2 linked regions of the Homo sapiens genome follow. The protein of the gene in region 1 purifies or fractionates together with the protein of each later gene. This does not show direct contact. Each region holds a gene or a part of one and is shown on either strand. Other genes may lie near its edges. The genes, in order: MPC2 and ARMC6.

Region 1 (3,826 bases):
CCCGTCTCAAAAAAAAAAAAAATTAGTGCCATCTAAGTAGCTTTTGCAACAGTTTTAAAAATATCTCTGGTAGGCTTACCTCCAAATACGAAAAAGCTGAGAGGCTCCTGCTGCCCCCACAAAGAAATTAACAGCAAACAGACTCCAATTTTTTGGAATAATTACAAGTGAGTATCTTGACCAAATAAACCCTGTTGAAACAAAATGTTACTTTAAAAAGAATACATACTGCTTCAATAACTTCAGTGAATACTTAATATTGAGTAAAGTAATTACAACAATAATGTAGGATGAGGGACAAAGAAATGCTATACTCTGAATTTTCAATGTTTCTGTAACTTAGTGTCACAGAAAATACTCAATTCTTACATGAAAGAGGAATCTTTAAAGTGACTATTAACTGTAATTTTCTTCCCACTTATAAAAATATGTTCATGGCAAAAACCTGAAAAGCAAAAGCCCATTCAGATACTTATTCTTTCTGTGACTCCTCCATCCATAACTTAATAACTTCCTAGACATAATACTGTTAATTCCTTTGTGTGTGGGTGTATTTCAAACACTAAGCCACTAAATAAACTGATATAAAAGAAAACAAAAATCATTTATGTTCTACAAGAAACACAGAAGATATTTATTTAATTTACCTGTAGCCATCAAAACAGCAGATTGAGCTGTGCTAAGTTTTTCTGCAGGTCTGGCCATATCAGCCAATCCAGCACACACCAACCCCTACACATTAACGCATAGAAAGAAAAAAAGTATCACAAATGTGGAGTAATAGTTTTAACTTTAAATCAAGCACAAGACATTTTTGAGATTTCCGTAAGTTAGCAGCTATAATTTTAGTGTCCATTCATTAAGAAAATGTAGATTACAACAAAAAAAAAGCACAATGAATTAAAAAACTGCTTTTTGAACTAATTTTATTTTGTTAGGTACACTAAGCAGTCTCACATATCTGAAAGTCAGTAGTACATATATAGATAAGATGTATATGTATGCATTACACGTACATATATATTTTGGGTTTTTTTTGGTCTACCTATTTCACATATGAATTTATATACTCTTTATATATGTCAGGAACCACTAACCACTAGCATGGAAGATACCTAAAAGCTGTTAAGGTCATTTGTATAGATTCTTCCTTTGATGTTTTCTGCCAATGTTATCATTTTTAAATTAAATTAAATTTTAGATTTGGGGTATATGTGCAGGTTTGTTACATGGGTATATTGTGTGATGCTGAGGTTTGGGCTTCTAATGAATTATTTTTTAAAAGTATAAATATCAGAAAAACTTATAATTTTAGTTTTTTGGTTAGATCATTTTTTTTTTTTTAGACAGTCTCACTCTGTCACCCAGGTTAGAGAGCAATGGTGCGATCTAGGCTCACTGCAACCTCCACCTCCCAGTTTCAAGCAATTCTCATGCCTCAGCCCCCAAGTAGCTGGAATTACAGGCGTGTGCCAATATGCCTGGCTAATTTTTGTATTTTTAATAGAGACGGGGTTTCACCATGTTGGCCAGGCTGGTCTCAAACTCCTGACCGCAGGTGATCCGCCCGCCTCAACCTCCCAAAGTGCTGGGATTACAGGTGTGAGCCACCATGCCCGGCCTTGGCTGTTACGCCATTTTTCTTTAACATCAGCATATACATGGCCATTTCTCTTCTGTGTTTTTAACACTGTCTCTATTGCACTCATGCGTTTTTGCTCCCACCAGATGAGCTGTATTTTTACCAAGTCACTATGTTTGTCCCCAATCTATTTATGCCAGTTTTACTTGTTAATGTAATTTACATGATTTAATAAATTGTTTTTTTTTAAAAAAACTAAGCTGGAAATTATATAGGATGCACTGTAGTGTAATTTATCCAGGATAGAAAATGTGGAGCTCAGAAATCCATACACAAATAAAAGATTTAGCTTTAAAAAAGACTGATTGTCAATGAATATATATTTATATCCTTTAGGTTAAAATAAAATATTTAAGGTACATAGGTTTTTGTTTTTAGGATTATCCACTTTGACCTTTATGATTAGTTATGTGGTTTCAACTAAAGTGGTTACAAAGGACTCTACTACAGTTATATGTTTGAAGGCATATGGTCTGAGAGTCTTCATGTTATAGAACATATGTGGCTTGCAGAAGCAACTGTTATGTGTCATGTATAGAATTCTACAGATTAATTATCAAATACTCTGGGATAGTAAAACACAGTAAGAGGTATATAAGGTAAGTATCTAATAGAAGAAGTCTCCCCACCAGAGAACAAAACACAGAAGTTTCTATTGCTATGCTGTCATCTGGAGACTATGTATGATTTCAACATGTACTTAAAATAGATGTTCTTAAAGAGACAGATAGTCAAGAAGGCATTTATGAGTATATAATGCTGTCAATATCTCACAACAGTAATGAACCAGTTCAAATAAACCCCAAAGCTATTGATAAAATCAATAAACTCCTAAACTGTGGTAAATTTGAGATCAAAGAGGCCCCTAAATTTATTGTGAATAGATGAAATCACTCAAACTCTTTTAATGATTGAATACTTCAGCAATCAATTCCACTATAAAGATATATTATTACTATGTAATTTTAAGTGTAGGTAGGGAGAGAAGAAGGAAATGGTAATGTAACTTCCATTAGTATAGGGGGTTTTAGGATCTTTTCTCAATATGTAGATATGAAAAAAAAAACCTGCTCCCTAGATCTCTGTAAAATACAGCTCCCGAATGACTTATATTCTAATCTTGTCACTTTATAGTTGAAGAGACAAAATGACAAAGAGACTAAACTTGCCCAAGGCCATAAGATTGAGTCATAGCCAATTCCAACTCTAACATTCTCAACCACTTGAATTTACAACTGAGTTTCTGAATTGTTCTAACCATTTTAAAAGTACATTTAAGAGAATTACAACAGCCCATCACTCAACAACAACAAAAAACACCTTGATTAAATTAAAAAACAGGCAAAGGACTTGAATAAATATTTCTCCAAAGAATATACACAACTGACCAATAAGTACAATAAGTATATGTTCAGCATGACTAATCATTAGGGAAGTGCAAATAAAAACAAAGATATCTAACACCCATTAGGTGCCTATCATAAAAACAAAAACAAAAATGCTCCCCCATCAAAAGTAACAAGTGTTGGTGAGGATGTGGAGAAATTAGAACACTTATGAATTGCTGGTAGAAATGTAAAATAATGTAGTTGCTGAGGAAAACAAAAAATATTAAGCAGAATTATCATATGATCTAGCAATTCAACTTCTGGGTGTATACTAAGAAGAATTAAAAGTATTGACTTAAACAGATTCTTGTACATCAATGTTCATGGTAGCATTATTCACAACAGCAAAAATGTGGAAGCAAACCAATTGTCCAATCAACATATAGAAGAATAAACAAAATGTGGTAAATACATACAATGGAATGCTATTCAGCATTAAAAAGAAAGGAAAGTGACACATGTGACAACGTTAATGTACCTTGTGGACATTATGCTAGGGGAAATAAGCCAACTACAAAAAGACAAATACATTTTGATTCCATTTACATGAGGTACTTAGAGTAGTGAAATTCATAGAGACAGAAGGTAGAATGGTGGTTGCCAGGGACTGGGAGAAGGAGAATGGGGAATTATGGGTACAGAGACTTGCTTTTACAAGATAAAAAGGGTTCTGGAGATTGGTTAACAATGATGTAAATGTACTTAACGCTACTGAACTGTACACTTTGAAAATGGTTCAGATAGTAAGTTTTATATGTATTTTACCACATTAAAAAAAAAAAAGCCTACAGACCAG
Region 2 (3,826 bases), on another chromosome or scaffold:
AACGTTTCATCATAGCAGGAAGTGCCCTGAATGCATGATCAGATTCGGGTTTGAGATTTTGGCACGATGACTTCACAGGTGCATTTTGTTCTTGTTCAGGAGGTAGGTGTTGCTGGTTTCTCTTGATGATGTGAGATCAAGCAGTAGACTGAGTTCCTGTCTACCCCTTGTTGGGCTCCCATCAGTTTTACACCTGATGGTTTTGGATCCTGTGGGATCATTATCTGTTTCTCTCCTGTCACAGCTGATCAGCTGGAATCGGAAGCAGAACTTTTCCTCATCCTCTTTTTATAACCTGGGACTCATTTGTACAAGGGAGGCAGGTTAAGTGCTAGGTTTTTTTTAAAAAAATTGTTACTAATTATTGTAGAGACAGTGTCTCGCTACGTTGGCCAGGCTGGTCTTGAACTCCTGGATTCAAGTGATCCTCCCATCTCAGCCTCCTGAGTAGTAGCTGGGAGTACAAGAGCATGCCACCACTCCCTGCCAAGAGCTGGATTCTTGGCCAGTTTTCAGAAGCCTGAGCTGTATTTGTTTTAGTATTATGAAAGCACAGAGTTTGACTTTTTTTTTTTTTTGCAACATCGTCTGACTGTCAGCCAGGCTGGAGTGCAATGGCATGATCTCGGCTCACTGCAACCTCCGCCTCTGTGCTCAAGTGGTTCTCCTACCTCGGTCTCCCTGATTGCTGGGATTACAGACGTGAGCCACCACACCTGGCCCAGATTTTGATTTTGATATGTACTGGATTTTTTTTTAATGCTCACTTGTCTCATCTGTAGCTACCAGGCATCCCTTAGGGTTTGGAAGCTTCCTTGCTTCCTGGTCTCACAAGACCCCAGCGTTACCTGCCCCATGACCTGCTGGGACTTGGAATCAGCCATTCCTCCAGAAGCCCTGGCTCCTTGTTTTTAAAGATTTTATGTAGAGACAGGGCCTCCCCATGTTGTCCAGGCTAGTGTTGAACTCCTGGCCTCAAGCCATCTTCCTGCCTCAGCCTCCCAAAGTGCTGGGATTACAGGAGTGAGCCACCTAGCCCTGGCCCCAGCTCCTTTTCGTGGGAAATGGTAGAAACCATACATGGTGTTAGAGGTATTCAGTGCTCCTGTGCTGTCATTTCTCCTAGGCATTTTTAGTTGCTATGACTAGAAAATTAGATCTTTGTTTACCTAAGAGAAAACACATGATGGGTTTATATGGATATTCCCATTTCATATATAGGAGTTCTGAGATTTTTTTTCTCAACTTTATCGAGGTATAGGATGTACTTTTTTTTGAGACGGAATCTTGCTCTGTTGCCCAGGCTGGTGTGCAGTGGTGCAATCTCGGCTCACTGCAACCTCTGCCTCCTGGGTTCAAATGATTCTCCTGCCTCAGCCTCCCGAGTGGCTGGGATCACAGGTGCCCGCCACCATGCCCGGTTAATTTTTGTATTTTTAGCAGAGATGGGATTTCACCATGCTGGCCAGGCTGGTCTTAAACTCCTGACCTCAGGTCATCCACCTGCCTCGGCCTCCCAAAGTGTTGGGATTACAGGCATGCGCCACTGCACCCAGCGAATTGTATTTAATATAGTGTATATCTTATACTATATATGGTACATAAATGATACAAATATATTGCATATGTTTACATTATACAACTTGACGATTTTATATGCATGCAGATTGTGAAATACTCACCTCAATCAACAGTTACCTTTTTCTTTTTTGTGGTGAGAACACTTAGAATCTACCCTCTTAGCAAATTTCAAGTATACCATACAATATTGTTAATTATAGGGAGTTCCGAGTTTTTAGTTGATAGTACGATGTTAGAATCTTTTTTTTTTCTTTTTGAGTCAGGGGCTTGCTCTGTTGCCCAGGTTGGAGTGCAGTGGCGCAATCTTGGCCTCCCAGGCTCAAGCGATCCTGCTACCTCAGCCTCCTGAGTAGTTGGGACTACAGGCATGTGCCACCACACTCAGCTAATTTTTATTTTTATTTTGGTAGAGACAGACTTTTGCCATGTTGTCCAGGCTGGTCTTGAACTCCTGGGCTCAAGCAATCCTCCTGCCTCAGCTTCCCAAAGTGTTGGGATTATAGGCATTGACCCACTGCGCCCAGCCAGAATCTTTTTTCTTTTATTCTGATTCCTAATAAGATAATCATTATTATTTGCTACATCCGTAATAGTTTCAGAATAACATTACTAGTATCATTATATTAAAGAACCACCTTTCTTAGATAAAATGTAGTAAACTCTGTGTTCTCTCCTACACTTTGTTTTTTTTTCCCAAGACAGGGTCTCACTCTGTGGCCCAGGCTGGAGTGTAGTAGTGTGATCATGGCTCACTGCAGCCTTGACCTCCCAGGCTCAAGTGATCCTCCCACCTCGGCCTCTCAGAGTGCCGGGATTACAGGCTAAGCCATCACACCCGGCCTCTTCTGTATTTGCAGAAGTTCTAGGGAAGTAGGGATATCACCCTTTCCTGTGATAACAGGTGGGAAGAATTTCTCCAGGGTGGTTGTAGGGCTCTGGTCGCTGGTAGATGCTTCCTAAGTGGCGTTTTCAAGGTGGCCAGGCCCTGCCATTGCCTGCTCACCCTTGAGGTAGCTCTCTCTTTGCCCTAACCTCTCAGCTCAGGAGCATCTATCGGCTGCACGCCAACATCAACACAGGCGAAGATGGTCTCCAAGCGCATTGCCCAGGAGACCTTTGATGCAGCTGTGCGCGAGAACATCGAGGAGTTTGCGATGGGGCCAGAGGAGGCAGTGAAAGAGGCCGTGGAGCAGTTTGAATCGCAAGGTAGGGTGGTGTGACTGTCACCTACCATCCTTGGCTCTTAGATGCAAGAGCAGTGGGAGAGCCCTGCTGCCCCGCCCCACTGGGGGTGCCACATGCCTGGCATAGAAACCAGGTGCCATTGGGCCCTGTCCCCTCCAGCTTCTGCCCGAGGCAGGCTGGTTATCCTGCTCCCACCTCTCACCTGCTTCCACCTCGCCCAGATATTTGTGGGCTGGATCCTTCTCATGAGTCTCATTTGATCACTTCCTTGAAGAGACTTTCCCTGACCCTGGCCTGGGAAACAGGGCCCCTGCCTCCCTGCCCTACTCTACCCTACCTCGAGCTTACAGAGGCAGAAGCAGCCTGTGGAAACAGGTGGCATGTTCAGACCAGGTGCAGATGAGTGTGGTTATGAGGGGCTGTTTGCAATGGTGTGGGTGGGGTTAGGAGACCACCCCTAGCACAACTAGCTCCGGCAGAGACCCTGACTGCAGGGAGCAGGAGTCCTGGGCAGGGGCCACATGATGGGTGCTGGGCCCTGGGGCAGAGGCAGGGGGCTGGGAATGAACACCCCACACTCCCCTCCTCCTGCCCCCATCTCAAGTTCACTTCCCCATTGAACAAACCCAGGGTACAGCCTGAGAGGTCAGAGGTCAGCCTCCTAGGCACAGAGTGGGGTATAGAACACTAGACAGGGGCCAGTGGGACAAGCAAAAGCGTCCAGCACTGTAGGGGCTCCCTGTGGGGGTGCCAGCAGGGGCAAGAATGCAGCCAGAGCCAGGAGGGATGGGAGCCCCAAGGGAGAAGGCTGTGGGGTCCCTCCCTCCCCCACCAAGCCCACCAGGCAGCATGTGGCACCTCACTGCACAGACGTGGCCTGTGATGACAGCCTTGTGTGACAACGGCCTCACTACCACTCTGCTCCCTTTGGCCCACGGACCAGTGGCAGAAACACCCAATACCCTCTACACCCCCGTGATGATGTGGCATGGGCGGGAATAGGGAGGTGGGAGGCTTCTGGAGTGGGGTGGTCCCAGCAGAAGGGTCCTGAGGTGTGATT

Evidence for each region.
Region 2: the proteins of MPC2 (region 1) and ARMC6 purify together in Homo sapiens (co-immunoprecipitation; one large-scale study listed by IntAct). This does not show direct contact.

What each region holds. Positions count from the first base shown.
Region 1 is NC_000001.11:167,919,900-167,923,725, forward strand, and holds part of MPC2 (mitochondrial pyruvate carrier 2), read right to left. Parts: intron 733-3,826; coding exon 648-732; intron 192-647; coding exon 80-191; intron 1-79. UniProt on the Homo sapiens protein: Mediates the uptake of pyruvate into mitochondria.
Region 2 is NC_000019.10:19,040,091-19,043,916, forward strand, and holds part of ARMC6 (armadillo repeat-containing protein 6), read left to right. Parts: intron 1-2,595; exon of another isoform or gene 2,596-2,620; coding exon 2,621-2,787; intron 2,788-3,826.